2 linked regions of the Homo sapiens genome follow. The protein of the gene in region 2 interacts with the protein of the main gene of each other region in a biochemical or structural test. Each region holds a gene or a part of one and is shown on either strand. Other genes may lie near its edges.

Region 1 (3,748 bases), on a different chromosome or scaffold from region 2:
ATTTCAGCAAAGATGACGCACCAATGGCCAACAAACACATGAAAAGGTGCTCATCCTCATTGGTCACCAGGATAATGCAAATTAAAACCACAACGAGATACCACTTCACACCCACTAGAGTGGCTACAATCAAAAAGAAAGACAACAACAAGTATTGGCGAGGATGTGGAGAAATCAGAATCCTCATACATTGTTGGTGGGAATGTGAAACGGTGCTTCTGTTATGGAAAACAGTATGGTAGGTTTTTTTAAATAAACACAAGTTTAAATTAAACTTAAACATAAATTTACCATACAACCCAGCAAAATTCTACTCCTAGGTAAAAAATGAAATTAGAAGTGAAAACATATATACACATGAAGACACGTATGCAAACATTCATAGCAGCATTATTCATAAGAGCAAAAAACTGGAAATGACCCAAATCATCAGCTGGTGAATGGATAAACAACTTATGGTTTACAAAATGGAATATTTTCTAGCAATAAAAAGGAACAAACTACTGATACATGCTACAACACGATGAGCCTCAAACACAGCATGCTTAGTGAAAGAAGCCAGATGCATAAGACTACATATTATATGATTCCATTTAGCTTAATTTTTCAGGGAAGAGAAATCTATAGAGACAGAAAGTAGTAGATCAGTGGTTGTATGAGGCTTCAGGCAAAAATGCAGTGCCTGCAAATGAGCATGAGAAAGCTTTTCGGGGTGCTAAAAATGTTCTAAAACAGGACTAGGATGATGGTTGCATAACTCTGTAACTACAAACCACTGAATTATACACTTAAGAAAAGTGAGTGGCTAGGAGCCGTGGTTCATGCCTGTAATCGCAGCACTTTGGGAGGCCAAGACGGGAGGATCACCTGAGACCAGGAGTTCGAGACCAGCCTGGGCAACAACAAAGTGAGACCCCCATCTCCACAAATAATAAAAACAATAAAAAATAAAATCTTAAAAGGTGAATTTTATGGAATGTAAATTATAATTCAATTAACCTTTTATGAAAAATTCCCCCAAAAACATGCTGACCTGAAGCAAGTAACTGCTTTGAAAGGAATAAATATAAATATAGTGTTCTTGTGAGAGACAACCATGATCAATTGGTATGTCAATTCCAAGTGTTAGTGATCATACTGAAGGGAAACGAAATGGAAAGAAAAAAATACATTTTTATGACTTTAAAAGAGAAAGAATAGTCTTTCCTAATGACAGCTGTTGATAATTAAAACTCAACAATAAGATATTTAGCCATGAAGAGAAATGAAATCCTAACACATGCTATTAACATGGATGAACCTTGAAAATATTTTGCTAAGTGAAATAAGCCAGATATTTATGACAAATATTGTATAATTCCACTCATAAGAAGTACACAGAATAGGTAAATTCATACAGACAGCAGAATAGAGGTTACTAGGGTTGGGGGAGGGGAAAGTGGGGAGTTATTGTTTAATGGGAACAGAGTTCCAGTTTGAGATTATGAAAATGTTCTCGAAAGAGATAGTAATTATACAACATGGTGAACATGCTGAAAACCACTGCATTATATACTTAAAAATGACTAAAGTGGTAACCGTTGTGTTATGTATATTTTACAACAAACAAACCTCGACAAAGAGAAATAACCCAAATAAAAATGGGCAAAAGATCTGAAGACCCCTCACCAAAGAAGATATGCAGATGGCAAGAAAGCAATATGAAAAGATGCCAAACATCATATGTCATAAGGAAATAGCTAAATTTTTTAAAATGAGATACCACTACACACCTAGTAGGATGGTCAAAATCCAAAACACAGACAAAACCAAGTGCTGAGCAGAATGTAGAGCAACAGGAACTCTCATTCATTGCTGGTGAGAATGCAAAACAGTATAATCAGTTTGAAAGCCGGTTTGACAGTTCTTAAAAAAAACTACACGTACTATTTTATTTTATATATATATACATTACTATATAATCTAACAATTATACTCCTTGGTATTTACCCAAATGAGTTAAAAACTTATTTCCACATATAAACTGCACGCAAATGTTTATATCGGCTCTATTCATAATTGATAAAACTTGGAAACGACCAAAATGTCCTTCAATAGATGAAAGGATAAACTATGGCACATCTAGATAACAGAATATTATTCAGCAATAAAAAGAAATGAGCTACCCAGCCATAAGAGGACATGAAAGAACCTTCAGTACACATTGCTAAGTGAAAAAAAGCCAATCTGCAAAGGCCACATACTGTTTAATTCCAACTACATGACATTCTGGAAAAGGTAAAACTAGAGAGACAGTAAAAAGATTAGTGGTTGCCCGGGGTTAGTGGGGAGGGAGGGATGAATAGGTGGAGCACATAGGATTTTTAGGGTAGTGAAAGTATTCTGTATGTTACTATGATGGTGTTTATATGTCATTATACATTTGTCAAAATCCACAGAATGTACAACACAAAGAGTGAGCCCTAATGTAAATTATGGACTTTAGTTAATAATGTTATATTGATATTGGTTCATCAACTATAACAACTGTACTATGCTAATGCAGGATGTTAGAAATAGGGGCAACTGGAAGGGACAGGTATGAGGCGCTATGTGGGAACTTTCTACACTTCCCACTCAATTTTTCTGTGAATCTAAAACTGCTCTTAAAAAAAAAAAAAAGTCCATTAATGATTTAAGTGCAGGGAAGGAGGGTTTAAGCCAAAGTCAATGAATTGAGAACTACAGACTGGATGCAAATTTTTTCAGTCCAACTAAGAACACAGAATGGAGTAAAATGAAGGGATGTTTTTCAGCCAATGTTATATAAAAACTATAAAAATTTGTTTGAATTTAATTTGCTGTCATTTATGTTTGTATGAGTAATATTCAAAATGTCAATTACTACCATTTACAAATAATTAGGAAATGCCTTTGATTTTCTTTATTCACAAGGTACTGAAGCAAAGCAAAGGATCTGGGGAAAATATTTTGCTACCCAACTCCACATCCATTTGTTCCATTAGGATTTTCTGAGTAACATAATTACTCCTAAACAAAGCAGGTTGGCATCGAACATCCTTTGAGAGTTTATGCCATTCAAGAAGCGCTTATGTATTGCAAAATGCCCACGTTTAATTCTAACAAGTACAAAAGGGTGACAGGCTTTAAAGCATGTAACTCAGTGCTGACCTTTTTACTCTTGCTTTGAAAGGCAAAGAGGATGAACCACTTACTTACCTTACTGAATCACACCAAGAACAGGTTTTTGGCCTCTCTGTTCAATGCTATATTACTCAGTGAAAAGACAATCACTGATAATCATTCAGTGCTACCCCCAAAAGAAACTCTGCTGCTTTACAAAGCCAAGACATATTCAGCCACTCTCATCTGTCCCTCTAGCCTTCAAAGCCCGTGATGGAGAAAGAACTCCAAAACTTCAGAGGATAATACAAAATCTTAGCTGGTCTTTGCTACCCAGGGCTCGGAGTCTAAAAAACAACTGGCAATGTTTTCACTTAATCAAGCACCTGCTGCATGTTTCTCCTTTACGGGATCTAGATCTATAAAGAATTTGCATCTCCATTGCCAGCATCTCATTCATAAAGTGGAAGTAATAGTAACAATGATCTACCTGAACTTTGGCAATCCCTAGAGGACAGTTTTATTGCCTATGATTAACACTCAAAACCAAGTTAAATCCAAAGAGCTAGAAATACTAGTTATAAAATAACTGTAAAATAAAATAAAATATGGCTATAAAATAAAG
Region 2 (3,748 bases):
GCAGTGGTGCGATCTCGGCTCACTGTAGGCTCCGCCCCCCGGGGTTCCCGCCATTCTCCTGCCTCAGCCTCCCGAGTAGCTGGGACTACAGGCGCCCGCCACCACGCCCGGTTAATTTTTTGTATTTTTAGTGGAGACAGGGTTTCACCGTGTTAGCCAGGATGGTCTCGATCTCCTGACCTCGTGATCCGCCCGCCTCGGCCTCCCAAAGTGCTGGGATTACAGGCGTGAGCCACCGCGCCCGGCGATTTTTGTATTTTTTGTAGAGATGGAGCTTTGTCATGTTGCCCAGGCTGGTTTCAAACTCCTGGACTCAAGTGATCCACATGCCTCACCCTCCTAAACTGCTAGGATTATAAACATGAGCCACTGAGCCAGACCAGAAAACTCTTTCTTTTTTTTTTTTTCTTGAAAGAGTTTTGCTGTGTCACCCACGCTGGAGTGCAACAGTGCAATCTTGGCTTACTGCAACCTCTGCCTCCCAGGTTCAAGCAATTCTCTTGCCTCAGCCTCCCCAGTAGATGGGATTACAGGCATGCGCCACCACGCCCGGCTAATTTTTTTTGTTTCTAAAGATGAGGTTTCACTATGTTGCCCAGGCTCGTCTAGAAATCCTGGGCTCAAATGATTCGTCCACCTCAGCCTCCCAAAGTGCTGGAATTACAGGCTTGAGCCACTGTGCCCAGCCAAGAAAACTTTCTTTTTTTCTTTTTTTTTTGAGACTGGGTCTCAAAAAAACTCCTGAGCTCAAGCAATCTTCCCACCTCAGCCTCTCAAAGTGCCAGGATTATAGGTGTGAGCCACTGCACCCAGCAATTTTAGTTTAATTTTATTATTTTTTTTCCAAGGAAATTATTATTATTATTTTTTGAGATGGAGTCTTGCCCTGTTACCTAGGCTGAAGTGCAGCGGCGCAATCTCAGCTCACTGCAACCTCACCTCCTGGGTTCAAGCAATTCTCCTGCCTTAGCCTCCCGAGTGGCTGGGACTACAGGCATGTGCCACCACATCCAGCTACTTTTTTGTATTTTTAGTAGAGACAGGATTTCACCATGTTGGCCAGGCTGGTCTTGAACTCCTGACCTCAGGTGATCCGCCCACCTCAGTCTTCCAAAGTGCTGGGATTACAGGCATGAGCCACCATGCCTGGCCCAAGAAAACCTTTTTTTTTTTTTTTTTTGCGACGGCGTCTTGCCCCGTCGCCCAGGGTGGAGTGCAGTGGCGTGATCTCGGCTCACTGCAACCTCCGCCTCCGGGGTTCAATCAATTCTCTGCCTCAGCTTCCTGAGCAACCAGGATTACAGGCACCCGCCACCACGCCCGGCTAATTTTTGTATTTGTAGTAGAGACAGGGTTTCACCATCTTGGCCAGGCTGGTCTTGGAACTCCTGACCTCATGATCCACCCACCTCAGCCTCCCAAAGTGCTGGAATTACCAGCGTGAGCCACCACGCCCAGCCTAGAAAACTTTCTAACAGTCCAAGCTGCCCAGTGCTGGGTATCAAGCTTTCCAGGGCTGCGAGCTTCCTAACACCAGTGCTTTAAGCATTATTCTGGTTATTTATGTAAATACAAGCTACGCTGTCCGAGTGCTGACTGTGCTAGGCACTGTGCTTAGCACATCACGTGCAACACAGCAACCCTATGAGGTAGGTGCTATATCATCCACATTTTACAGATGGATAAACTGAGGTTTGAAGAAGGAATGTCAGTTTGCCAAGGTCACGCTGCTAGTGGGTGCTGGGGCAGGACTGGAACTCTTGAACTCTTCATCAGAGTTGTTTGTGCTTCCGGCCTCCCCCCAAAAAGAAGGAGAGCTTTGAAGGGGGAGGAACTTCTGACTACCTGTTAGGGCGGTGGGCTTCACAGGTGTCCCTGAAGGCTGGGGGTATCCAGGCACCGCAGCCCGCAACTCTCGGGTCACTCTGCTGCGCAAAGGGTGGGCAGGAGGCAGTTGCTCCAGCAGCTGCTCCAAGGCCAGGCGCAGGAGGTCCAGTTTCTGAGAGGACTCCTGTAGCTGGGCCTGGGCCTGCAGAGGGGACAACGTAGAGCCAGGTTCGTGGGGTATATGGCAGGGGGCAGCAGCCCAGGTCACCCGGAGCCACCTTCCGCATGAAGTCTCAACAGAGAAGTCCTGCTTTTACACGGCCACCCTCCCTTCACACCCCTGCTGAGGGTGGTATGGGAACAAGCCAGCCTTAGGAGAGGGCCAGGGCTGGGGCCTGACCTCAGCCAGTGCCTTGCGGTCCTGTGTTCTCCGGCTACTAAGCAGTTTCACCACGTTCTTGGCGCCCTCAGCCACAGCTGCCTCAACGTGCAGTCGATGCTGTAGCTCCTCCGCCAGCAGCTCAGGCCCTGTGGGAAGGACGGCGGCTCTCAGGCCCTGCTCTTCCCTGCTCCGCCCTCCCTGTGTCTCAAGGCCTCACCTGGCTCCGGGGACCCACTGGCCTCCAGGCTGCTGATCTTCATCCGCAGCAGGGCCACCTTCAGCTGGCTGTCCCGCAGCATCTGCTGGGCAGCTGCCAGGAGCTTCCTCTCCTATGGAGCCATAGCACAGGCCCATCAGACCAGGCCTGGGCCACAGCTTCCCCCATCAGACCAGGAACTGGAGCCGGGTCTCCCCCATCAAAACAGGGTTAAAGTGAAACCTCTAGGCCAAACACTAAAGTCAAGCCTCCCTTGTTGGACTAGTTGGTGGGTCAGGGGAGCCTTTTCCATCTGACCAACAAGGGCTGGGGTCAAATTTCCTCTTTCATATCACGGCTGGGGTCATGCCTCTCCCATCAGATCAGGGCTGGGGCTAACTCTCCCCCATCAGATCAGGGCTGGGGCTAACTCTCCCCCATCAGATCAGGGCTGTGGTCATGCCTCCCCCATCAGAGCAGGGTTGATGCTTCCCCCATCAGATCAGGGCAGGGGCTAAGCTAAGCCTCCCCCATTAGATGAGGGCAGGGGCTAAGCTAAGCCTCTCCCATCAGATCAGGGCTGGGGATAAGCCTCCCCCATCAGATCAGGGCAGGGGCTAAGCTAAGCCTCCCCCATTAGATCAAGGCTAAGGTCCTGCCTCCGTCATCATATCAGGGCCACAGCCAAGTCTTCTTGTCAGACAAGGACTGAGGCCCAGTTCTGGACATCATGCTGGGAGTTGGGACTGGGGCTGGGCTAGGATCCCATTAGACCAGGGCAAGGCCTTCTCTGTCACACTAGAGACTACAGCCATGCCTTCCTCACCCAGCTGGGGTTTGGGGCTGTATTTTCCCCATCAGGCTGCAGGCTGGAATGGTGTCTCCTTATGAGCCCAATGGCTGAGGTGCATTTCCCTGTCAGACCAGGGGCCAGGGTGCTCCTGCCATCAGACTGTGGGGCCTTACCTTGGGGGTGCCACTGGCGCACGTGTGGGTCATGTTCTCAGCCCCCTGCTTCACCTTCAGCTCCACATGCAGCTGCCTCCGGAGAGCCTCTAGGTGCCGAGCCCTGAGCTGCTCTGCCCACGGCCGGGGTCCTGAGGCCACAGGCTCTGTGCACGGGGGTATCGAGCACAGGAGTCCCTCACCCAGAGCCGAGACCCCCACTGTGGCCTTTCCTCCTTCCCCTACTGATCTATAGGCAGGAAATGAGGTGGTCTCGCCACAGTGGCCAGGGCCAAGGCCAGGGGCCAGATGGGCCTAGAGCCTTCTGTCCTGAGGGGGTCTCAGCTCCTCACTCACCAGCTGGGCCAGGCCCAGGGCCGGGCAGCAGGATTCGGGCG

The links. The genes of interacting proteins can lie anywhere in the genome.
Region 1: the proteins of PKN3 (region 2) and ARHGAP26 form a complex in vitro, tested with the Homo sapiens proteins (one study listed by BioGRID).

The regions. Positions count from the first base shown.
Region 1 is NC_000005.10:142,773,328-142,777,075, reverse strand, and holds part of ARHGAP26 (rho GTPase-activating protein 26), read right to left. Parts: intron 1-3,748. UniProt on the Homo sapiens protein: GTPase-activating protein for RHOA and CDC42. Facilitates mitochondrial quality control by promoting Parkin-mediated recruitment of autophagosomes to damaged mitochondria.
Region 2 is NC_000009.12:128,705,503-128,709,250, reverse strand, and holds part of PKN3 (serine/threonine-protein kinase N3), read right to left. Parts: coding exon 3,708-3,748; intron 3,518-3,707; coding exon 3,372-3,517; intron 2,539-3,371; coding exon 2,427-2,538; intron 2,356-2,426; coding exon 2,228-2,355; intron 2,030-2,227; coding exon 1,846-2,029; intron 1-1,845.